7 linked regions of the Homo sapiens genome follow. The protein of the gene in region 7 purifies or fractionates together with the protein of the main gene of each other region. This does not show direct contact. Each region holds a gene or a part of one and is shown on either strand. Other genes may lie near its edges. The genes, in order: PRRC2B, ZNF318, CYLD, CUL7, DBT, DNASE2B and CECR2.

Region 1 (3,500 bases), on a different chromosome or scaffold from region 7:
GGGATGACAGGTGTGAGCCACCGTGCCTGGACACCCAGGCTGTTTCAGACTCCTGGACTCAAGTGATCCCTCCGCCTCCGCCTATCAAAGTGCTGGGATTACAGGCATGAGCCACGGCACCCAGCAAGGCAGCCTCTTTCATGAGCCACTAGGTTCTGGGGGGTCTCAGTCCTGGTTAAGCCCTTTGATGAGTGGGGCTTGAGGTCTTACTCCATTTACTGGTTTGAACCTGGAGAAGCCTTTTGTCTTAAACAGTTTTTGTTTCTAGGGACATGGATGCCCCATTGACTCCTGGGGAGATCCTGGTCTGGTGGGGAGGAGGCCCTGGAGAGCCCCCCACCTAACTTTGGCCTCATCCTCTTGTGGTTTCTTTCTTTCTTTTTTTTTTTTTTTGAGACGGAGTTTTGCTCTTGTTGCCTAGGCTGGAGAGCAATGGCGCGATCTTGGCTCACTGCAACCTCTACCTCTCGGGTTCAAGCGATTCTCCTGCCTCAGCCTCCTGTGATTTCTTCGGAGCCCCCTACAGTTTCTCTTTATAGCAGTTTTCACAACTTGTAAATAGGTGTTTTTTTCTTTATTTGAATTTTAAAAATTGTGGTGAAGTATACATAACATAAAATTTACCATTTTTAAGTGTACAGTTGAGTGGCGTGAAGCACTTTCACAGTGTTGTGCAACCATCACCACCATCCATCTCCAGAACGTTCTCATCTTCCCAAACTGAAACTCTGTTCCCATTAGATGCCAACTCCCCTCCCCCATCCAGTGGCGGCGGCCACCATTCTTACCATTCTTTCTCCTTTTTTTTTTTTTTTTGAGATAGGGTCTCACTGTCGCCCAGGCTGGAGTGCAGTGGCACGATCTTGGCTCACTGCAACCTCAGCCTCTTGTGTAGCTGGGATTACAGGCACACGCCACCACACCCAGCTAATTTTTGTATTTTTTTGTAGAGACGGGGTTTCACCATGTTGGCTAGTCTGGTGTCGAACTCCTGGCCTTAAGTGGTTTGCTTACCTCAGCCTCCCAAAGTGCTGGGATTACCGGCATGAGCCACCGTGCCTGGCCTAGTTTTTGTATATTTTATTTTATTTTATTGAGACAGAGTTTTGATGTTGCCCAGGCTGGAGTGCAATGGCGCGATCTCGGCTCACTGCAGCCTCTGCTTCCTGGGTTTAAGAGATTCTCCTGCCTCAGCCTCCCGAGTAGCTGGGATTACAAGCGCCTGCCACCATGCCCAGCTAATTTTTGTATTTTTAGTGGAGACGGGGTTTCACCATGTTGGCCAGGCTGGTCTCGAACCCCTGACTTCAGGTGATCTGCCCACCTCGACTTCCCAAAGTGCTGGGATTACAGGCGTGAGCCACTGTGCTTGGTCTAATTTTTGTATTATTGTTATTATTTTTGAGACAGAGTCTCGTTATGTCTCCCAGGCTGGAGTGCAATGGCACGATCTCGGCTCACTGCACCTCTACCTCCCGGGTTCAAGCGATTCTCCTGCCTCAGCCTCCTGAATAGCTGGGATTACAGGTCTGGCTAATTTTTGTATTTTTAGGAGAAACGGAGTTTCGCCATGTTGGCCAGGCTGGTCTCGAACTCCTGAGCTCAAGCGATTTGCCTGCCTCGGCTTCCCAGAGTGCTGGAATTACAGCCATGTGTAATCCCATGGTGGCAATGTTGAGCCACCTTGCCCTGCCAACCATTTTACTTTCTTTCTGTGAAACCGAATACTCTTAAGTACCTCATGTAAGTGAGATCATCCAGTATTTGTCATTTTGTGTCTGGCTTATTTTTAGCATAGTATTTCCAAGGTTCATCCATGTTGCAGCATGTGTCAGAACTAACTTCATTCTTAAGGCAGAATAATATTCTCTTATTTGCATGTATCTACCACATTTTATTTATTCATTCAGCGACGGGCAGCAGCCTGTAGATAGTTTTGTTTTCATGTATTGAATGGTCCTTTCCCCCAGTGGAGTGAGTAAATGCATCCGGAAGCAGAATTCTGTTGTTTCCCATTCATCACTGTGTGCCAGGTGTCTGAGAAGGGGGTCTTATAGGAGCCCACGCAGAAACCAAGCTCACCTCAGTCTGGGTGTGGGGCAGTCAGGGAAGGCATTCTGGAAAATGTAGCTGACTCGAAATAAGCACCTATTGAAAATAGTGTGCTGAGCCCTGGAACATTAAAAATGTGTTCCTATGTGGAAATCAGAAATGTATGGGTCCCAGAAGAGAACTTGTGGGTCAGCCTGCTTTCCAGAGAGTGCCGAGGCCCTTTGAATGGTGAACATTATGCAAGCATTCTTGTATGGCCAGTGGCCAGCAGGGAGGAGGGCAGAGAATGACTGTGCCTCCGGGAAGCCGGCGTCAACTTCCCGACACGCTTCAGGATCATCTCTTTGTATAGAACCATGGGATGGATCGCTGCAGGACCTACTGGAAAAAGGAGGTCATCTCCAGGACTCTTTCCATGGGTCCTTTGTGTCTTGCAGAACTTTTTTCGGCAGGTGTTGTTTACATATGGTTCAGAGCTTAAAGAACAGCTGTGTTCCAGGCCAGGGCAGAAAGCACAGGCCTGTCTGGGAGGGGCATCATCACTCCTGCCTGCCTGCCCAACCGACCTGTCGGTGGACTGAATGGGCCAAGTGTTCAGAAGTCCTTGGGAAGAGGATAGTGTCCTGAATCATAATGTGGTATTTTCTGGTTTTTTGTTTGTTTGTTTGTTTTTGGTAAAATGTTAATTGCAGAAGTATACAGGTTATTTTATTTATTTATTTATTTTTTTTTGAGGTGGAGTCTTGCTCTGTTGCCCAGGCCGGAGTGCAGTGGCATGATCTCGGCTCACTGCAACCTCCACCTCCCAGGTTCAAGCAATTCCCCTGCCTCAGCCTCTTGAGTAGCTGGGAGTACAGGTGCATCCCGCCACGCCTGGCTAATTTTTTTTTGTATTTTAGTAGAGATGGGGTTTCGCCTTGTTGCCCAGGCTGGTCGCAAACTCCTGAGCTCAGGCCATCTGTCCACCTCAGCCTCCCAAAATGCTAGAATTACAGGCGTGAGCCACTGCGCCTGGCCCATACTTTAAAAAAAAAAAAAAAAACAAAATTAAAAGCCAAGTGTTTGAAGAGAAATGAAAGCTTTTCCCCAATGTCCCAGGCAGTAACCATTATTGATAAATTTGCTTTGTTTATCCTTCTAGGCTCAGTGCACGTATAAATATGGCCTCATGTAGGGAGGTTTTTTAAAAAACAAAAATGGGATATACTATATTGTATTGCAACTTGGCATTTTCAAAATATCACAGTATTTTTCCATACGTATTTTTAAGCGTAACTTCTCTTATTTTTATTTTCAGTAATACTTTTTTTTTCTTCCTTAGGGATGTGGGGGTGGGTCTCGCTATGTTGACCAAGCTTGTCTTGAACTCCTGGCCTCAAGCTGTCTTCCCATCTTGGCCTCTGAAAGTGCTAGGATTACAGGTGTAAGCCACCACACCCAGCCATTTT
Region 2 (3,500 bases), on a different chromosome or scaffold from region 7:
TGGCATCTTGCTTGGCCTCACTCTGGGTCTTTGAAGCCCAAGGTCTGTTGTAGGGATCCAGTGTCTATTTGTAAGAGGCAGAGGTGCTCACACAACAGCACTAAAAGCTCAATGACCCACTTTTCTCTTTTTTTTCCCCCATAATAAGACCAGGGGACCAGAAGCCCCCAGCTACCCACCCCCACCCCCTCTGCCAACTGTTTTAATGGAAATCACCTGTGGAAAAGGTAAACACATGTTAGAGCAAGTACCAGAAAAAGGTAAAATGAAACAAAAAAATCAGGTACTCAAGGAATCAAAAGAGGCAGAAACCTCACTTACACTTGTCATGGTGTTTAGTTACAGCCAAGTCCCCTGGACTGAGCCCTGGGGATGGTGTCTCCTTTGTTGGTGTCTCTTGGCTCTTCAGACTGGGGCTCCTGCCCATATGAGAATGTTTCCTTTTCCAGCTTTGCAATGCAGATAGGGGTATAGAAGTTTGAAGAGAGTGAGGGTGGGAGTGAAAATAACAGAGAGTAGGATACCAACCTGTGTGTGCTTCTTATTGTGCATATGAGTGAAGAAATCAAACATGGTCCCACAGATGGTGTTGCAGTCTTTGCACCAGTGATTGCCAGCATCATAATACTCATAAGCAGCAGTGGGCTGATCCAACTGCTTAGTGGCTGACTGGGGGCTTTCGGCAGGCTTGGGGCTCTTAGTACGAAACTTCTCATTGTTTACTTTTGATTCCTAGAGGGGAAAAATCTGTACTTACAAGGAATTCAAGGCAATCTAGACTTGTCTTCTGTTAGAAATAGTAAGTGGCCATAATAATAGAAATAGGGCCATATGACCATATTTCCAATGTTTAAAGCTGCACAAGTTGGGGGGAACCCTAACAGAAACATGTCTCTAAGACATAGAACTATTTGACTTCATAGTGCTATCACAGCATAAAAAGTAAATCATAATGGCAATATATTTACTTACATATCCTAAAATATCTCTAGAAGAACAGCCAAGGTTGTGGAAACATTGGCTGCCTCTGGGGAAGGGAAGTGGAGAACAAGGATGGGTAGGAGTCTCTTCACTGTATACCCTTTAGTAAATGTTGAATATGTTACCTATGCAACTAAACAGTTAAATTTGAAAATCATGACAGCTAGGGAGGGAAGAAAAACCAATATGGAAAAGGTAATTGACAGGCTAAGCAAAGCAAATGCAGAAAATAGGTGATAGTGAACTCATCACATGCATCCTGGTATGAAAAACTGGAGAGAAGGGTTGGTGTACATAGATAAAGTAGACTATACAACTACACATAGATAAAGTCATCTATGTAGAATGATTTAAAGGAATCTAGGAAAAACATTCCTAACTGCCTAAAATATCACTTTTAGAATTTAACAACTTTAGAGGCCAGGTGCAGTGGCTCACACCTGTAATCCCATCACTTTGGGAGGTCGAGGTGGGCAGATCACTTGAGGCCAGGAGTTCGAGACAGGCCTGGCCAACATGGTGAAACCCCATCTCTACTAAAAATACAAAAATTACCCGGGCATGGTGGTGTGCACCTGTATTCCCAGCTACTCGGGAGGTTGAGGCACGAGAATCACTTGAACCCAGGAGGCGGAGGTTGCAGTAAGATAAGATTGTGCCACTGCACTCCAGCCTCAGCAACAAGTGAGACCCTGTCTCAAAAAAAAAAAAAAAAAAAAAAAAATTTTAACACCGTTAACATGTATCCTTTTTAAAAATATATCAACTTCTTAATATTAAAGTTATCAACAGCAAATACTTTAATATGAATTAATTTATTACCAAGCTGGAACAAGGCACTCAGGAAATGAGAATTTTGGTTAATGTTCAGGAGTAAGGCACAGGAAAAAAAGATAATTTTTGCAACTCAGAGGCTCACTATGAATGGGGTTCTATAGTACACAAGATGAAGAGCTGGGTACCTGGAATATTGGCTCACGCAGGGAAAAAGGTAGGATACAGAAAGGGAAACAATTGGGGCTTCAAAGATACTCTTTCCCTACCTGAGTCCTATTCAAGAATCACTAAAGAAATCACACCAGACAGGCAGGGGATGGGAGAGTTCATACACTCCTGGTGGGAGTATTAACTGGCACCATCTTCTAGAAGATAATCTAGGAATACATTACATACCTCAAAATACTGTATACCCTTTAACCCAGCAATTCACTCCTTGACATTTATCCTATGGAAATTATCATGTCAAACAACAGGTGATTTGATTGGTTAAATAAATTTTGCTTAACCATGCAACCAAAACAACAAAAAATAAGGTTGTTAAAAATGGTATTATAGAAGTGTATTTACTGACATGGAAAGATGTTCATGATATACTGAGAAAACTAATAAAATACACTTGAATAATCAACAAAGATATGTAAATCGGCATACAGCGTTGAATATCACTTTATCCAAAATACTTTCTCTAACCACTCTATACTCCTTATCCTGTTTTCTTTTTTTAGGCACTTCTCATTACCTAACATGGACTTATTTATTTATCATCTTCTGCTATTTAATGAGAATATGAACCTTGTCTATACTGTTCAGTGTGATACTTCCCATATCTAGACCAGTTCCTGACACTTTATTGGTGACCAATACATATTTGTTAAGTGAATTGATGGACAGAATTAATACTTTGGTGTATGTATTTGGAATAACATACACCAAGGTATTAATAATAAATTAATGTATTTGGAATATATAATAATACCTTGGTGTATGTATTTGGAATAACATACACCAAGGTATTAATAATATTATACACCAAGGTATTAATAACAGTGGTCTCGGCTGGGCCCAGTGGCTCATGCCTGTAATGCCAGCACTTTGGGAGGCTGAGGTGGGCAGATTACTTGAGCTTAGGAGTTCGGGACCAGCCTTGGAAACATGGCGAAACCTCAACTCTACAAAAATACAAAAATTAGCCAAGTGTGGTGGTGGTGAGCACCTGTAGTCCCAGCTACTGGGGAGCCTGAAGTGGGAGGAATGCTTGGACCTGAGAGTTGGAGGCTGCAGTGAGCCATGACTGTGTCACTGCACTCAACTTAGGTGACAGAGTGAGACCCTGTCTCAAAAAAAAAAAAAAAAAGTAATAATAACAGTTGTCTCTAGGTAGATGAAATTACAAGTTTGTATGTGCTTTTCTGAAATGAACAGAAAGGGAAAGAAAATCTCAAACCAACTATACATTTTAAAGAGAGGTAAAGAAAGAAGAAATACCAAGGACAGGTAGGAAAGAAAGGCTGTGGACATAATATTCCTTACTGCTGAGATGAAAACTGAATTGTAACATATCCGTTAGTTTCAGAGACCATGAAGACGCACCCAAATCAAGATGACAGATTATCATTGGGTTCGTACATGAATAGAAATCCAATGTATAAGTCAATTACAAAGGACCAGAGCTTTTAAATTCTTCTCCCATCAAAGGCCCTACCTAGACTGAAGACCCAGGTATAAAAGACTAGGCCTAC
Region 3 (3,500 bases), on a different chromosome or scaffold from region 7:
AAAAAGAAATAATAGAAAGAAATTATAATGCAGTTATATCATGATATTCCCTTGCTATGTAGTACAAGTTTTGATGCTACAAAATTGATTTTTAAAATATTTTTAATATAGTCATATTATAATATCTGATATTTGCGATTTGAGAAATCAGATAACTATGATTAATGTGATGAACATTGCCCATCTTCAGAAAAAATATATGAAATGAAGTTGAGTCAGAGGTAAAATGTTCCATTATCACAATATGGCCATATCATAGCTATCATTTATAGGCATGAGCCACACAGCTCAGCCCGAAACGCTACTTTTAAAAGTTTATTAGTGTCAGAATATGGGACAGGCCTGGTGGCTTACGACTGTAATCCCAGTGCGTTGGGAGGCCAAGACAGGAGGATTGTTTGAGCCCAGGAGTTCAAGACCAGCTTAGGCAACATAGTGAGACCCTGTCTCTACAAAAAATAGAAAGCTTAGCTGTGTGTGGTGATATGCGTCTATAATACCAGTTACTCGGGAGGCTGAGGTAGGAGGATCACTTGAGCCTGGAAGGTCTTGGCCACAGTGAACTGTGATTGTGCCACTGCAGTCCAGCATGGGCAACAAGAGTGAGACCCTGTCTCAAAACAAATAAATAAAAATAAATTAAAAAAAGTTAGAATATGTATATAAGGGTAATCTTTAAAAGTTTTTACTAGAATCTGATTTTATAAATTTCAGTGTCTTGGAAGCAAACATTGTGTTGTCTTTGAAAGTACTTTACAATTGGATTTCATTAATTAAATATGCACAGTTACAGTAGATAAAAGTAATACAGTATGTATGTCTTTTAGCCCTTTTAGATATTTTTTGAAAATATTTCATTTGTGTGTATGTGTTTACTGGTCAAATGAAAATTTTAAAAGTCTTCAGTCTTAATTTTCAGTCATGTAGAATGAAGTCTAAAGTTTATTTTTGCTTTTTCACTAGGCATTTTGATTTCCTTTCTTTTTACAGCATGGACACCACGTTGCTGAAAACATGCTTTGGGACTGCCACTGAATTTATCTTTTGCGGTTTTATGACAAAGTTATTAGTAGTTTCCCTTTTTTGAATTAGTATTTTGAAGTTAATATCACAATGAGTTCAGGCTTATGGAGCCAAGAAAAAGTCACTTCACCCTACTGGGAAGAGCGGATTTTTTACTTGCTTCTTCAAGAATGCAGCGTTACAGACAAACAAACACAAAAGCTCCTTAAAGTACCGAAGGGAAGTATAGGACAGTATATTCAAGATCGTTCTGTGGGGCATTCAAGGATTCCTTCTGCAAAAGGCAAGAAAAATCAGATTGGATTAAAAATTCTAGAGCAACCTCATGCAGTTCTCTTTGTTGATGAAAAGGATGTTGTAGAGATAAATGAAAAGTTCACAGAGTTACTTTTGGCAATTACCAATTGTGAGGAGAGGTTCAGCCTGTTTAAAAACAGAAACAGACTAAGTAAAGGCCTCCAAATAGACGTGGGCTGTCCTGTGAAAGTACAGCTGAGATCTGGGGAAGAAAAATTTCCTGGAGTTGTACGCTTCAGAGGACCCCTGTTAGCAGAGAGGACAGTCTCCGGAATATTCTTTGGAGTTGAATTGCTGGTAAGTTTGATAAACCATTTTAGTAGTGTGTTTGTTTGTGTTCATGTGTGTCTGTGTATTTGTATGCACATACATATTTTTCTCCTTAAATACGAAATAAATTTTCCCAAGAGTCTTCTGTAATTTTTAATATTCATCATCCTTGCTGATGAATCCATGTTGTGGTTGAATCCATAATCCAAAACTTGCTTATAGTTGTCACTGATAATATGTGTGAAAATCACCTTGGCGTTTATTTCTGTTGGAAAGAGACCCAAGAACTCTGTGATATGTTTCCAAGCTTAATATTCATTCTTGAGAACTTAAATGTCAATTATATTTTGACATTCTTGCAAATAGAATTGTATGCCTTCTTTGCTTCTTGATTTAATTTCTTTTGTTTACTTTTTAATGATGAATTGCGAAGATGTAAAGATGATGTCGAAACTTAAAAAACTATGTACTATGGTAGGAACATACAAAGAGATTCACCTGGCTATTGCAGACATATATATTTTAGAAATTTTAACATTGCCTGTATTAAACATGAACGCTACCAGTTGTAAATAGTTACATAAAAAATTGTTAATTACCTTGCGTTATCATCTATAGGTTTCTTAGTTCTTCTTAATGTATGTTATTAAATAACAATTTAGATATAAGATTTTTGAAAAAAAAGTTGCAGAAATTTAAACTTGCTTATAATTGTCCCCGATAATATATGTGAAAATCCTTAGAATTTATTTCTACCGGAAGGAGACCCAAGAATGCTGTGATATGTTTCCAAACTTAATATTCATTCACAAGAACTGAAATGCCAATTACATTTTGACACTCTTGCCAATAGAATTGCATGTCTTCTTTGCTTCTTGATTTAATTTTTTTTAAAAGCAGTGATTGTAAACAATTAGGAATTTGAATCCCAGTTAAGCCATTTACTAGCTGGGTTGCCAGGTTACTTAACAAAGCTACTTAACTTCTCTCATTCTGCATCCTTACCTGTACAATGGTGTTAATAGTACATGACTTGTAGTGTTTTTGTGGTACATTGATGCAGGATTTAAGCACAGTGACTGACAATAAGTGCTTAATGAATGGAGCTAACATTACTGCTATTTTAAAGTAACATTTTCTTTTTATAACCAAATTAATGTTAGAATCACAACGTGGAATTCAGCCTAGCTTTCTCATGATAGAGTTATGAATTGAAATTATCAGATAATATTATTTCAGCATCAGATACAACTTCTTATTTTTTAAAACACTCTAAATCCAACAGAAACTGCTAATAATTGTATTTCTTATTATATGTATCATTTAGAAATTTTCCAGAGTGATTTTCCTGAAATCCCTAGAGTGAACCCCTTTTCCTATGGATCGTCTTTCTATATCTATTTCTTTCCCTTCTCTCTTAAAAACTAGGAAGAAGGTCGTGGTCAAGGTTTCACTGACGGGGTGTACCAAGGGAAACAGCTTTTTCAGTGTGATGAAGATTGTGGCGTGTTTGTTGCATTGGACAAGCTAGAACTCATAGAAGATGATGACACTGCATTGGAAAGTGATTACGCAGGTCCTGGGGACACAATGCAGGTCGAACTTCCTCCTTTGGAAATAAACTCCAGAGTTTCTTTGAAGGTTGGAGAAACAATAGAATCTGGAACAGTTATATTCTGTGATGTTTTGCCAGGAAAAGAAAGCTTAGGATATTTTGTTGGTGTGGACATGGTAAGAAAATTTTGGATTAAATATCTTTGTGATATATATATTAGTTTATATATATATGTATATATATATATAAACATATATATACACACATATATATACACACATATATATGTATAGTTTATATATATATGTATTAGTTTTAGGACCAATTTACTTGCAAATTGAACACTTTGAATATT
Region 4 (3,500 bases), on a different chromosome or scaffold from region 7:
TTGGAATGGTGAAAAGAGTCAGTAGTTGAGAGGGGGGCCATTCTGAGAGCTGGGAAAATCTGGGTTTAGGAGGCTGTGAAGTCAAGAAGACTCACACCTGGGAAGAAACTGATATAGCCAGACTCCTCCAAAGGTCAGGGTCAGGGAGATGGAGTGGTGGAGGCCAGAAGGAAGTGTGGGGGCATAAGCCATGAAAGACAGGGTGAGAGGAGAGACAGGCCCATCCCCCAAAGGAGAAGGCATCCTGTGTGTGTGTGTGTGTGTGTGTGTGTGTGTGTGTGTGTGTGTGTGTGTGTGTGTGTATTCTCCATATGCTGCTGTTTTGTTATGTGGAGGTTTTTCTAAAACCTGGCCAGGTGGTCACCCTGAGGGCTATAGTCCTCAGTACTGGGCCACAGCCAGTCATTTGTGAGTCCTCCCTTCCCCTTCCCTCTTTCTTTCCCTATGCTCCAGGTATTTTGGGAGTCAACAGGCCGCACCTATTGGGTGCACTGGCACATGCTGGAGATCTTGGGCTTTGAGGAAGACATTGAGGACATGGTTGAGGCTGATGAGTACCAAGGGGCAGTGGCCAGTAGAGTCCTGGGTAGAGGTGAGCTCAGGGAGGAAGCAAGGGTCAGCTCTGAGCAGAGGAATGGTGGTCCTGCTGAGTTGCTAGTGACATCCTTGTGCCCCTTGGCCCATTTTCACAGCCCTGCCTGCCTGGCGCTGGAGGCCCATGACAGAACTCTATGCTGTGCCTTATGTGCTGCCTGAGGATGAGGACACTGAGGAGTGTGAACACCTGACCCTGGCTGAGTGGTGGGAACTCCTCTTCTTCATCAAGAAGCTGGATGGACCTGACCATCAGGAGGTTCTCCAGATCCTCCAGGAGAACCTAGATGGGGAGGTAGAGCCAGCCTGGAGACACTCAGAGGTTGGAGGGCTCTATTGCAAGGGCTGGACTGTATAGAGCATTTGGAAGGCTCAGGATGAAAAGTGGAGGTCAGAGAGTGGAAGGGGCTGCAGAGGAGGGGTCTGGAATTTTCAGAGGTGGGAGGGTGAGCTGTTTGGGAGGAGCCAGCTGCCAGCTGTGAGAGGATCAGGATGGAGGGTATGTGTGCAGAGAGACCCCCACCCCTACCAAGTGCTCCCTGGGGCCTCTGGGTCGGCAGGGCTGTCTGCAGTGAGAGCTTCTCCTTGATGGCAGATTCTGGATGATGAGATCCTAGCTGAACTGGCCGTGCCCATAGAATTGGCCCAGGACTTGCTGCTGACTCTGCCACAGCGACTCAATGACAGTGCCCTCAGGGACCTGATCAACTGCCATGTCTACAAGAAGTATGGGCCTGAAGCCCTAGCAGGGAACCAAGCCTACCCATCCCTTCTAGAAGCCCAAGAAGATGTCCTCCTGCTAGACGCGCAGGCCCAGGCTAAGGACTCAGAAGATGCAGCCAAAGTGGAAGGTGGGTGCCAGACACAGCAGCTGAGCTGACACACCTTCAGGGCAGTAGCACAGGAGAGATGTCTGTGCTGATTTTTATGCAATCCTTTCTGGAAGTGATGCCACCTTAGAAGCTGCAACTTAGAGAGAAGCAACAAACGGAGAAGCAGGCATTGTGTTCCCTCAAAGAATGAAGGAGGATGTAAAGTTAGAAAATTGCAAGAGAATTTTGAAGACTTAAAAAAGCCCCCACATTTAGCTTTTTCTCTTGTACAGAAACATATTCCATGCTTTGAAATAAAGGGAAGTGCTCTCCTGTTTTCAGATGAAGCTACTTTGCTATTTTAAGAATATAAAGGCCGGGCATGGTGGCTCACGCCTGTAATCCCAGCACTTTGGAAGGCCAAGGCAGGTGGATCATGAGGTCAGGAGATCGAGATCATCCTGCCTAACATGGTGAAACCCCGTCTCTACTAAAACTACAAAAAAAAAAAAATTAGCCGGGCGTGGTGGTGGGCACCTGTAGTCCCAGCTACTGGAGGCTGAGGCAGGAGAATGGCGTGAACCCAGGAGGCGGAGGTTGCAGTGAGCCGAGATCATGCCACTGCACTCCAGCCTGGGTGACAGAGCGAGACTCCGTCTCAAAGAAAAAAAAAAAAAAAGAATATAAAATTTGTCATGAAGCTGTCTTACAATGACATTCAGAGATTAGATCCCCAAACCTAACTTTTAGGGGGATTAAAAAATTTAAAACATTTTTTAGGAGAAATTAGAGAAAAAGATTGAGAGTTATGAATCTATTTCTGAGCCTTCACATTACTAACAATGGCCAACTCCTGTGACTGTCCCCTTCCTGTAGCAAAAGAACCCCCATCTCAGAGTCCCAACACTCCCCTGCAGCGTCTGGTGGAGGGTTATGGTCCAGCTGGGAAAATCCTCCTGGATCTAGAGCAAGCCCTCAGCTCAGAGGGGACCCAGGAGAACAAGGTCAAGCCACTCCTGCTGCAGCTGCAGCGGCAGCCGCAGCCCTTCCTGGCACTGATGCAGAGCCTGGACACTCCGGAGACTAACAGGACCCTGCACCTGACTGTGCTGAGGTGAGAGCATGGTGACAGGTGGGATCTCTGAGGGCAAAGGGGGTCCATGAGGCTGGCTACACATTTCTCTGCCCCCAGAATCCTGAAGCAGCTGGTGGACTTCCCCGAGGCACTGCTGCTCCCCTGGCACGAGGCCGTGGATGCCTGCATGGCCTGCCTGCGGTCCCCAAACACTGATCGAGAGGTACCCCTGCCCTGCTCTGGGGAGAGGCTGGGGGAGAGGATAAAGGCAGCCACTGGCAAGGCACACCTGCTGGGCAAGGCTCTGGAGGGCGTGATAGAGCCTTTGAGCTCTTGGTTTGAGTTTTGCTTTTAAAATTGAATTTTATTTTTTTTAAATAGGTAATACATTCACATGGTTCACAAATCAAAACGCTCTAACAAGGTATACACTGAGAATTCTTGCTCTCACCCAAATCTCTGTTCCCCCAGGGTCCCCCACACACCCCTTACTGGTAACTACTTGTATTAATTTATGTATCTTTCCCGTGTTCCCTTATGCAAATATAAGCAAACCCAAATGTGTGATCTTGCCACTCTCTTTTTTACACAAAAGGATATGGAGATATTATTACATAAAACATTAAGAGCTTCAATAGCTCCATTTTTGGCTGGGCCTGTGGGAGAAAGGGGGATGAAGGAGGCAGAGCGCCCATCACATACCAGAGTCCCCTGCAAGAGCTACAGAGAAGTCCTGGGCACAGAAGGCTTCAGAAGGGCTCAGAGAACTAGGGTCATGGTGACAGTAGGTATTTGCAGTGTGGCTATATTTTTGGCTGTTACCTAGAATTTACTTTCTAAGGCAGGCTCATTGGGTATAATACACACACAAACCCAGTCCCTGTCAGCCCCTTCCCAGCCATCCAGGTGTCTGTGCCTGAACATCTCAAAACACAGCCCTACAACTGGTTTTTGGGACAGTAGGGCCTGGATGAAAGAACCCAGGGATGCTCTCTGCCGTTTTTGCCAACATAATCAGC
Region 5 (3,500 bases), on a different chromosome or scaffold from region 7:
ATTTCCTTCATTATAGCACGTGTTATAATCACCGGTTTACTTGTCTTTACCTTTCACTGTACTGTGCATTCTATAAGGGAAGAAATTGCATCTGTTTTGTTCTCTGTATAATCCCAAGTGCCTGGCACATTGTAGGTGTGCATAAATATTTTTTAAATGACTCAGTAAAAAAAAAAGTCAGGTTTGTAAACTCTTCTAAAAAGTTGTAAGCAAAAACAGTTCTTACCCCCGTAGTAAATTATTAAAATAGCCTTATAATGTTGTGTTTTACATTTCCCTAGGACATAATGCATTTGACTCTTGATTAATCATGCCATTTGGAATTTTTCTGTTGTGTCTGTCTTCCTGTAGTAAAGTGTAAGCAATTTGAATTCAGGAACTATATATTGCATCTTATTTAGCTTTGCATTTCCAAGTCCAGTACAATGTCTGACTTTAGGAGTGCTCAACAGCTGCCTATTGAATTATTATTAAATATTTCCTTAATACGCTACTTTGGTGAACAGTTTCATTTCCCTTTATGTTCTTCTGTCCTGGTTGTGATATTGAATTATTAATTTTTTATTTTTATTTTTTTTGAGACGGCGTCTCACTCTGTCACCAGGCTGGAGTGCAGTGGTGCAATCTCAGCTCACTGCAACCTCCGCCTCCCGGGTTCAAGCGATTCTCCTGCCTCAGCCTCCCAAGTAACTGGGCAGGCACGCGCCACCATGCCCAGCTAATTTTTGTATTTTTAATAGAGACGGGGTTTCGCTGTGTTGGCCAGGATGGTCTTGATCTCTTGACCTCGTGATCCACCTGCCTCAGTCTCCCAAAGTGCTGGGATTACAGGCATGAGCCACTGCACCTGGCCTAATTTTTTATTTTATTTATTATTATTTTTGAGACAAGTTCTTGCTCTGTTGCCCAGGCTGGAGTGTGGTGGCATGATCTTGGCTCACTGCAGTCTTGACCTCCTGGGCTCAAGTGGTCCTCCTTCCTCAGCCTCCCAAGTAGCTGGGACTACAGGCATTCACCACCACAGCCAACTAATTATTTTGATTTTTAGTAGACAAAGTCTCAATGCATTGCCCAGTATGGTCTTGAACTCCTGGGCTCCAGTGATCCTTCTGCTTTGGACTCCCAAAATGTTGGGATTACAGGCATGAGTCACTGCACCTGGCTGAATTATTTTTAAAATCAAGGAAAGACCTATTTTAGTCAAATAATTGCATTAAGACTTAGACTACACGTATAGTTGTTCAACCAGGATGTATTTGAGAATGAAAATGGTGTTATTAATAATTGCCTTGAATCACTAGAGGTGAATTGGGTGTCACCTCAGGCAAATTGGTACAGATGGTCCCCATAGAACTAGGTGTCTTTAGTATTGTTCATAGATGAATTTAGAATTGCTTCAAATATAAAATATATAAAACTGATAATTCCATAAGCATGCCTTTTTAAAATTGGAGGTTTAAAGCCTTATGCTTAATTTACTAGTCTAGCTGGGTGTGGTGGCTCACACCTGTAATCCTAGCATTCTGGGAGACTGAGACAGGAGGATTGCTTCAGCCCAGGAGTTTAAGACCATCCTGGGCAAAAAAGTGAGACCCTGTCTTTATTTTATTATTATTATTATTATTTGAGATGGGATTACAGGTGTGAGCCACTGCACCCAGCCAACCCTGTCTTTGAAGAAAATTAAAAAATATAATTTACTAGTCTAATAGTCTGTTTCTAGAAAAAAAATTTAGAATTCTAGCTTGAAAAATTATTTCTTCTCCTCTTTCCTGTTGCCTGTTAATCCATCTATTCAGCAACTTCACAGTGTTTTTAGCCTTCTCCTCAGAGCCATTCAATTACTATTATATTAATCATATACTGCCTATGGTACTTTTGTTGCTTTTTTTCTTTTTCTACTATTAATTACCTCAGTCAGGAGCCTGTTGCTTTGTGTCTCAAATACTATACAGTACTCTCCCCTTCTTATCTGTGGTCTCAGTTAGCCATGATCTACTGTAGTCTGAAAATAGGTGAGCACAGTACAGTAAGATATTTTGAGAGAGAGACCACATTCACAAAACCTTTATTACAGTATATTATTATAATTTTTCTATTTTATTATCAGTTATTATTATTACTGTCTTACTGTGTCTGATTTATAAATTAAACTTTATCATAGGTATGTATATATAGGAAAAACACGGTATATGTAGAATATGTAGGATTCAGTACTGTCCATGGTTTTAGGCACCCACCGGGGGATCTTGAACGTGTCCACTGCACATAAGGAGATAAGAGAGGAATACGGTAATAGTTATTTTTTTAAAAAAATCCTTTTTTGATAATTTTGGTATGTAATAGTTTCTTGACTTCTCCCTTTCTCTCCAGATTTTATCTGTTATAATCTATTCAATAAACCACTACTAATTTCCTAATCCTTTTTCTTCAATAACCCATAATGTATGAGTTCAAACTCCTTATACTGACATTATAGTCATCAACCATTTCCTCCTTGAGCTGTTTCCATTGCTCTCTTTTATACCTTTGGTCAAGCCAAATCAAGCCGCTCAATGTCCCAGCAGATATGCTAAGTCAATTTCTGCTGTAGTTTATTTATGCTGTTTCCTCTGCCTTAAAAGTGCCCTTCTGCTCTTTTATTATGTATGCTTATTATGCACAGTGCAGCTTAAATCTTCCTCCAAGAAGCCTTCCCAGGTCACACTAACGTGAAAAAAAAGCCCACCAGACCCCTCTACTTAAACTCCTTTTTTTTTTTTTTTTTTTTTGAGATAGAATTTTGCTCTTGTTGCCTAGGCTGGAGTGCAATGAGATTACAGCTATGAACCACTGTGCCCGGCCTGCTTAAACTCCTTTATCACGTACTGCCTATGTCTCTTTTTTTTTTTTTTCGTAAACCTATGGACTATATTAAAGAAGCCTATGCCTCTTATTACAAAAAGTTAGAGCATGCATGTCCATGCTTGAGTGTGTTTGTATGTGTGTTTATTTTCTCACATACGTTGTAAACTCTTTGAAATTAGGGATTATTTCTCCTATTTCTAGGGTCTTTGACATCAAATTTATTTAGCTTCAGAGCTCGATTGTTCCACTTATTTGCTGTGTGACCTTGGACAAATTACTTCACCTTTCCCATCAGTTTCCCGTGTGTTGAAGAGGGCTAACGTGTATGTTCCACAGGGAAATTGTAAATGTAAAGATGATGTCTGGGCCGGGCACCATGGCTCATGGCCTGTAATCCTAGTACTTTGAGAGGCCAAGGTGGGCGGATTGCCTGAGCTGAGGAGGTCGAGAGCACCCTGGGCAACATAATGAAACCCCGTCTCTACTAAAATACACACAAAAAAAGTTTAGCTGGACATGATGGCACATGCCTGTAGTCCCAGCTACTTGGGAGGCTGAGGCACGAGAATCGCATGAACCTGGGAGGCGGAGGTTGCAGTAAGCTGAGATCGTGCCACTGCACTCCAGCCTGGGTGACAGAGTGAAACTCCATC
Region 6 (3,500 bases), on a different chromosome or scaffold from region 7:
TGTGAATTACAGCAGAAAGTATGGACACACCAAAGGTATGACAAAGATTCTTGGTTTCTCTTTCCTACTGGAAATCAACAATTTCTTAAATATTTCATCTTGAGTATCCTTATATTCCATACTAAATAGATAGCCTTTCTTCTTAATAGTTTATTTGAGTTATTGAAATGTATGACTTCTATATCACTGGTTATAATATAATTATATGATTTGACTTGGCAATCTCATTTTTAGAAATCCCATTTTATTTCTTAACATATTTTAAAATATTTGCTTTGCAGCAGCAGGAATCCAGGTACTGATACTGAGGACACACACACACACCAGCAATTTTATATATATATATATATATATGCACATGAATATGTATATATGTATATGTGCATGTAGTATATATGTACAAACACATTTTAGTCAGATTTATTGAAGTATGATTTATAGAGAGTAAAACGAGCTCTTCTTAACATACAGTTCCCTTGGAAATATACATTTTTGAAAAAGTATTTTAAATAGCTTTTTATATTAATTTTTATCATGTTATTTACATTATCACATATAATTTTTATTATCCTTTCACAATTTTTTTATTTCTAAACTTTGCATATGTGTTTGTGAACTACAGAAAAATTCAAAATACAGGTAAACAAAAAAATCTATAATCCTAATGCCCATTAGATAAACCATATTTAATCCTTTCTACTTTTTCTAAAATACATATTTTAAAACATTTTTACAAAACTACTGTAATGACTATTTTTCAACCTTTTTTCAATTTCATATATCATAAATAACTTTCCATGGCAACAAGTATTCAGAAGATTCCAAATTCAAATGCCTTCAAGGGAGCAGGCAAATGATGTCAGCAAGTGAAAGGAGGCAGTTACTATTCAACTTGCCTGATACGGACACAATTTTCCAGGAGATGTTGAAAATTAATATTTGTGGAAAAACTCCCCAGTTTTTAAATGTTGGCACTAAATTCAAAGTTTAAAAAATACTCTGCAAGCGCAATAAAATGTATCCACAGGCTGGATTTGGCTCAGAGGATGTCAGTTTGCAGCCTCTGATTTAGAATATAGTTTGTAATGGCTGACAAAGGTCATGAACTTTGAAAGCTTTTTATTTAGCAAAGTTGCTCTCCTGAATACCCTATTTACTGGGAACCCAACAATTTTCATAACATGCTACATTCTTCAACCTCTCCTCCAACAATCTCCCACACTATTCCTGCTCTACCCTGCTAACTGCCACAAGGCTTTGGGGAAATGGCTCTAAAGAAGTAGGGCACAATATCAAGTGGAGGGGTTCTCTTGGCCAACAGATGCCCTAATATCCTATGGCATTTGTACCAGGAGGATAGGATTCCAGCAAATTGGCACACTCATCTGCACAGAGGATAACTCTTGAAGGTTATCCAGTTCTGTTACACACAGAACTTTCAATATTTTCCACCTTGACACAGGTATTGATTCTATTTCCACCCAAAGAACAACAGTATGCTTTCTTAAAATAGGCACTTTGAAAAAAAAATAACTAGAAGGCATTTGGTTTTTAATCTAACACTTAGGCAAACACGAGTGAATCTTATGTTTGCATAGTCATATGCAAACTGGAAAGTCTAGCTATCATACCAAACCTACCATGATAAATTTCTAAACACAAAAATAGTCAGATGTCTGTTTTACAAAGTTCTTTTTGGTATGTCACAAAATGATAAAAATCTTTCTATTTTCTTCCTTATTGGCTTTCAAGTTGTTTATTTTGCTCTAGAGATTTTTACAAACGTAATTAACTAGGATGCTTTAGCACAGCTTCCTTTTTGTCTCTTTGCTTCTTTTATTGGGCTTGTAGAAATAGTGACTCTTCTGCCAATAAATGGGCAGCAGTTTTTTATAACAAATTATTGTGAGTACATTTCTTCATTTGATATTTTCTCTTTCAACTCTGTTTTTTAGTCAGCTTTTGAAAAGAGCCTAGCTGCTTAGCAGTGAAGACACTATCTAAATCTTGCTAGGTGACTGTATAGTTTAACAAGGTCCAATTCCAATTTAGCAAATTTGCATTCTGCCAAAACAAATTTTCCTTGTGATTTCAAAATGAAATTCCTCTTAACTCTTCACAGGATGGCTACCTTGGTTCCCTTTTCGTGGTGGCTTTTTATCAGTAATCAGGCAATGTGATATGTGCCAGAATTGTATTTGAAATCTTTGAAAAATAAGCATGATCCTTGTGATTATTAGCCTAATAAAACACTAGTCTGAAGCATAAATGGGCTTAAATGTTGCCACTGTGAACCCTATTATAAAAGAAGCTTTGTTTTTCTGATTTATCTTTGTTAAATGTGTCTTTGGTAGGTTTACTGCTGTGGAACAGAGTTCAAGGGTTCTGGCTGATTCATTCCATCCCTCAGTTTCCTCCAATTCCGGAAGAAGGCTATGATTATCCACCCACAGGGAGACGAAATGGACAAAGTGGCATCTGCATAACTTTCAAGTACAACCAGTATGAGGCAATAGGTAAAACTAAAGTATGTGAGAAAAAAAACGATAACTATGTTGAAGAAATGATTTGGAAATATATTCATAAATGTGTCACTTCATTTGTTAATCTATTCATAGACCCTCTGATACCTAGATTCTAATACTGGCTTTGCCATGGTGAGGTCTTGGGCAGGCTCGCTTACTGGGCTTTGGCTCTTAATCTACCAGTGCAGTTGTTGAACTTGATCAGGGCAGTAGTTTCAAATGTATTCAGGGGCCTGGTAGATAACATATATGAGTGAAACAGACATGTTACATGGGAAGTGAGGATAGTGATGAACTGGGGTGTTGACTCACCTAGCTTCCCTTAAAGCCTCAGTTCCATCATACTGTGGCTCTACAGGAATACAAGCCTAATGATTACAGATCTCCTTATTTCTCATGAAGTACCAGAAACCTAGGGTGTGTGTGTGTGTGTGTGTGTGTGTGTGTGTGTGTGTGTGTGTGTGTGTGTGTGTGTCAGAGAGAGAGAGAGAGAGAGAGAAACTGATTTCCAAATATGAGTTCAATCTTAATTTTGTTTTTGAAGTTTTCCAGGCCACATGTTCCTTGTAGGCCACAAACATGACACCTCTGAGCCAGATAATCTCCTTTTAAGATTTCAAGCTCAGCGAAAAATTCTTAGATTTGGCAAACTGTGGTGGGAAAGGAGAAGTAGGGACAGGTTGGTAGCTAAATAGTAGTGAAAAGCAACTTGCCTATAGAAACAGGAGATTTAGAAAATGTTTCTCATCAAATTTCCATCTTATGGCAAGGATCACTGAGCTCCTCACCCAAGTCAAGCTCTAGTCTCACTAGTTGAAATCATGTAATGATGCCGAATATCACAGAGATTAGGCATGCACACTGAGGAGATGATGATTCTTAAAGCTTTTTGGTACATGGAGTTCTCAACTTTTGTATATGTATATGTACATTTAGAAGAAAAAATATATGGTCTCCAAGGCCAAATTACCTGGG
Region 7 (3,500 bases):
TAAAAAAAAAAAAAAATAGTCCTTTGTCACACTAATCTATTTAATGTAACATACTAGAGGATAAAATGCCTTCTAAAGATTCAGGATCTGCACCCTCACCAAGGAGGAAAGCCAAAGAACAGGATGTGAATTACAGAAGGACAGATCTGTGCAGGCTAAGATCCTGAAAGGGGAGAATGTGCTATCATAATGTAACTCTTTAAAAGTGAATACCAGGTCCCCTTTCTATTTATACCCACGCTTTGAAAGGAAAGGCTTGCTGCTTTGGTGTGTGTGTGTGTGCCCACCATGTGAAGCTTCAAAGGCTTCACAGTTGGGATCTTCTGCAGTTTAGAAGGGGCAGCGCCTTCTCATCTCTGAAGGGCGGCCTGCGTTAGCACATGGCTCGCTTTGCAACGGAAGTTAAGTTGCTTAATGTTCTGGAATACACTTAGGAAAGCCTAAAATACACCTTGGCAGCATTCAGTACTACCGATCATCTGCCCCTTTGATCAAGGGAGCTCAGTGTGGGATTCCATGGTGTGCTGGGGCTCGCACAATGCAGTGCGCTTGGCAGAGTGCGGAAAACTGCAGTGCAAAGGTGGTTTAGGTAAAAATGTGGTGTGTGGACAGAGCCAAAGGGGAGCTTCTAAGTACATGGTCTTAGATGTAGTTGATGTGACTAAACACATTTTCTTTTTTTTTGTTTTTTTTTTTTGAGATGGAGTCTTGCTTTGTCGCCCAGGCTGGAGTGCAGTGGCGTGATCTCAGCTCACTGCAACCTCTGCCTCCTGGGTTCAGGTGATTCTCCTGCCTCAGCCTCCCGAGTAGCTGGGATTTCAGACATGTGCCATCTGCCTGGCTAATTTTTGTATTTTTAGGAGAGATGGGGTTTCGCTGTGTTGGCCAGGCTGGTCTCAAACTCCTGACCTCGTGATCCACCCTCCTCGGCCTCCCAAAGTACTGGGATTAAAGGCATGAGCCACCGCTCCCAGCCCCTAAACACATTTTCAAAAGGCAGCAATCAGAAAGCTGGATTGTGGGCCCACCTGTCTTTAAGTTGTGTTCTTAGGCAGATGACTGTGGGTTTCAGGTGCCCCATCTATAGACTCAGTGATTCCTAGGTGTTCCTATGTCTAAAGTTCTGTGATTCTAGAAATGTTTCTCAGCATGCATAACACTCTTAACTAATCTAGAAAATTGCTGACTCACCAGTTAGGGTCAAGGTTAGGATCCACATCTTACAAATTAATTACGTACCAAGTGAAAACTGCAAATCCATACTTGGTGTGTTTGCAAATTATAGGAATTTTTTCTTTCTCTTTCTCTGGCATCTTGTCTGCAAATAAGCTACTTTGAAAGTAGCTTTTGAGACTTGAAGATTGACATGTTCACTATCTCTAGTGTTCTTAAAGTGACCTAAGATTTTGTGCTTTGAGATTTTGAGGAATTCTGGAGGCTGAAGGCATTGAATTATGTGATTCTTACTTCATTTTTTTTTTTTTTTAAAGACAGTATCTCACTATGTTACCCAGGCTGGATTTGAACCCCTGAGCTCAAGTGATCCTCCTGCCTCAGCCTCCCCAGTAGCTGGGACTCCAGGCACATGCCACTGCCTTTGGCTTCCTTTCACTTAGTCTGTTTCTTATATCTCATGTCATCAATAGCTAGAACTCTGAATAAGATCCACTTACAGCTTCTGGCTTGTGGTTTGCCTTTCATTTGCTATTATAACCTTTTCAGATGGCTGCTACCCTTCCTCCATATTTGCATATTTCATGGGATGCTATCCCTTGGATGCTTTTATTATATCTTTATATTAGCCTCTAACAAATATCAGTCAATTTATATTGGAAAACTTGGGGACAGTCATTTTTCAGCAGCTCTTAGGATTGAGAAAGGAATGAATGATTGGAAAGTAAGAGTGAGCTCCAGATTGTGTTCCTTTAATCCTCTGGGTTTCTCAGCCTCAGCACTATTGATAGTTTGATCTGAAAATCTGTTGTGGGAAGCTGTTATATGAGGAATGTTATATGCGTTTTGTTTTGTTTTGTTTTGTTTTTGAGACGGAGGCTTGCTCTGTTGCCCAGGCTGGAGTGCAGTGGCGCTATCTTGGCTCACTGCAACCTCCGCCCCCCGGGTTCACGCCATTCTCCTGCCTCAGCCTCCTGAGTAGCTGGGACTACAGGTGCCCACCACCACGCCCGGCTAATTTTTTGTGTTTTTAGTAGAGACGGGGTTTCACCGTGTTAGCCAGGATGGTCTGGATCTCCTAACCTTGTGATCCGCCCGCCTTGGCCTCCCAAAGTGCTGGGATTACAGGTGTGAGCCACCGCGCTGGGCTGTTTTTTTGTTTTTTTGTTTTTTTGTTTTTGGGAGACGGAGTTTTGCTCTGTTGTCCAGGCTGGAGTGCAGTGGCACGATCTCGGCTCACTGCAACCTCTGCCTCCCGGGTTCACACCATTCTCCTGCTTCAGCCTCCTGAGTAGCTGGGACTACAGGTGCCCACCACCACGCCTGGCTAATTTTTTGTATTTTTAGTAGAGACGGGGTTTCACCGTGTTAGCCAGGATGGTCGCAATCTCCTGACCCCCTCCTCGGCCTCCCAAAGTGTTGGGATTACAGGTGTGAGCCGGCCCACCTGGCCCTCGTTTTAAGATGTTTAGCAGTATTGTTGGCCTCTATGCTCCAGGTGCCAATAGCACCCCCAGTCATGACAAATATAAATGTCTCCAGACATTGCCAAATATGTCCGGCGGGGTGAAATTGTCCTGCTTTTGAGAATCATTACTTTAGTGTGTGAGGTAGAGATGACTTTTCAGTGTTGGTCATTGTATAGAAGGTACACCCTATGTGAGATAGATGAGTTTTTCCTTGTGATGGGCATTTTTTCCCCTAAATGCAAACCTTTAGTATTTTTGTTTATGGAAATTTAAGGAAGTTAAAGTTGCTCCCAGATGTGAATGTCATCAGCAATTGTACATGTCACAAACCTGGGAAACAGATGTTTTGTTAATTTTTTTCTTTCTTTGAGACAGAGTTTTGCTTTTGTGGCCCACCCAGGCTGGAGTGCAGTGGTGCGATCTCGGCTCACTGCAATGTCTGCTTCCCAGGTTCAAGCAATTCTCCTGCCTCAGCCTCTCAAGAAGCTGGTATTACAGGCGTGTGCCACCACACCCGGCTAATTTTTGTATTTTTAGTAGAGACAGGGTTTCACCATCTTGGTCAGGCTGGTTTCGAACTCCTGACCTCCAGTGATCAGCCCACCTCAGCCTCCCAAAGTGCTGGGATTACAGGCCTGAGCCCCCCGCGCCTGGCATTGTTAATTTTTTTCTCTTTCCTAGAACGTCATTTAAGGAAAGAAGAGAGTTTGGGGCTAGTAGGGAGGGAACTGTGAAGCTAACTGAGGCTGATAAAGAAAGGCCTTCCCCTACAAAAGGCCTCCCTGAAGCAGGGCCTGGCTGCCTAGTGCCGCAGGGAGGAGGGGTGAGGGGTGTTTGTGCTGCAGCCTGGGGCTGGAG

What was found.
Region 1: the proteins of CECR2 (region 7) and PRRC2B purify together in Homo sapiens (affinity purification with mass spectrometry, with the first as the bait; one large-scale study listed by BioGRID). This does not show direct contact.
Region 2: the proteins of CECR2 (region 7) and ZNF318 purify together in Homo sapiens (affinity purification with mass spectrometry, with the first as the bait; one large-scale study listed by BioGRID). This does not show direct contact.
Region 3: the proteins of CECR2 (region 7) and CYLD purify together in Homo sapiens (affinity purification with mass spectrometry, with the first as the bait; one large-scale study listed by BioGRID). This does not show direct contact.
Region 4: the proteins of CECR2 (region 7) and CUL7 purify together in Homo sapiens (affinity purification with mass spectrometry, with the first as the bait; one large-scale study listed by BioGRID). This does not show direct contact.
Region 5: the proteins of CECR2 (region 7) and DBT purify together in Homo sapiens (affinity purification with mass spectrometry, with the first as the bait; one large-scale study listed by BioGRID). This does not show direct contact.
Region 6: the proteins of CECR2 (region 7) and DNASE2B purify together in Homo sapiens (affinity purification with mass spectrometry, with the first as the bait; one large-scale study listed by BioGRID). This does not show direct contact.

The regions. Positions count from the first base shown.
Region 1 is NC_000009.12:131,400,586-131,404,085, forward strand, and holds part of PRRC2B (protein PRRC2B), read left to right. Parts: intron 1-3,500.
Region 2 is NC_000006.12:43,342,148-43,345,647, forward strand, and holds part of ZNF318 (zinc finger protein 318), read right to left. Parts: intron 733-3,500; coding exon 529-732; intron 65-528; coding exon 1-64.
Region 3 is NC_000016.10:50,748,586-50,752,085, forward strand, and holds part of CYLD (ubiquitin carboxyl-terminal hydrolase CYLD), read left to right. Parts: intron 1-963; exon of another isoform or gene 964-990; 5' UTR 991-1,113; coding exon 1,114-1,617; intron 1,618-3,018; coding exon 3,019-3,321; intron 3,322-3,500. UniProt on the Homo sapiens protein: Deubiquitinase that specifically cleaves 'Lys-63'- and linear 'Met-1'-linked polyubiquitin chains and is involved in NF-kappa-B activation and TNF-alpha-induced necroptosis.
Region 4 is NC_000006.12:43,047,352-43,050,851, reverse strand, and holds part of CUL7 (cullin-7), read left to right. Parts: intron 1-453; coding exon 454-592; intron 593-692; coding exon 693-889; coding exon of another isoform or gene 890-916; intron 917-1,189; coding exon 1,190-1,445; intron 1,446-2,282; coding exon 2,283-2,520; intron 2,521-2,598; coding exon 2,599-2,704; intron 2,705-2,862; exon of another isoform or gene 2,863-2,875; coding exon of another isoform or gene 2,876-2,905; intron 2,906-3,500. UniProt on the Homo sapiens protein: Core component of the 3M and Cul7-RING(FBXW8) complexes, which mediate the ubiquitination and subsequent proteasomal degradation of target proteins. Core component of the 3M complex, a complex required to regulate microtubule dynamics and genome integrity.
Region 5 is NC_000001.11:100,243,335-100,246,834, reverse strand, and holds part of DBT (lipoamide acyltransferase component of branched-chain alpha-keto acid dehydrogenase complex, mitochondrial isoform 1 precursor), read left to right. Parts: intron 1-2,232; exon of another isoform or gene 2,233-2,292; intron 2,293-3,500. UniProt on the Homo sapiens protein: The branched-chain alpha-keto dehydrogenase complex catalyzes the overall conversion of alpha-keto acids to acyl-CoA and CO(2).
Region 6 is NC_000001.11:84,408,484-84,411,983, forward strand, and holds part of DNASE2B (deoxyribonuclease-2-beta isoform 1 precursor), read left to right. Parts: coding exon 1-35; intron 36-2,354; coding exon 2,355-2,516; exon of another isoform or gene 2,517-2,527; intron 2,528-3,500. UniProt on the Homo sapiens protein: Hydrolyzes DNA under acidic conditions. Does not require divalent cations for activity. Participates in the degradation of nuclear DNA during lens cell differentiation.
Region 7 is NC_000022.11:17,375,960-17,379,459, forward strand, and holds part of CECR2 (chromatin remodeling regulator CECR2), read left to right. Parts: intron 1-3,500. UniProt on the Homo sapiens protein: Regulatory subunit of the ATP-dependent CERF-1 and CERF-5 ISWI chromatin remodeling complexes, which form ordered nucleosome arrays on chromatin and facilitate access to DNA during DNA-templated processes such as DNA replication, transcription, and repair.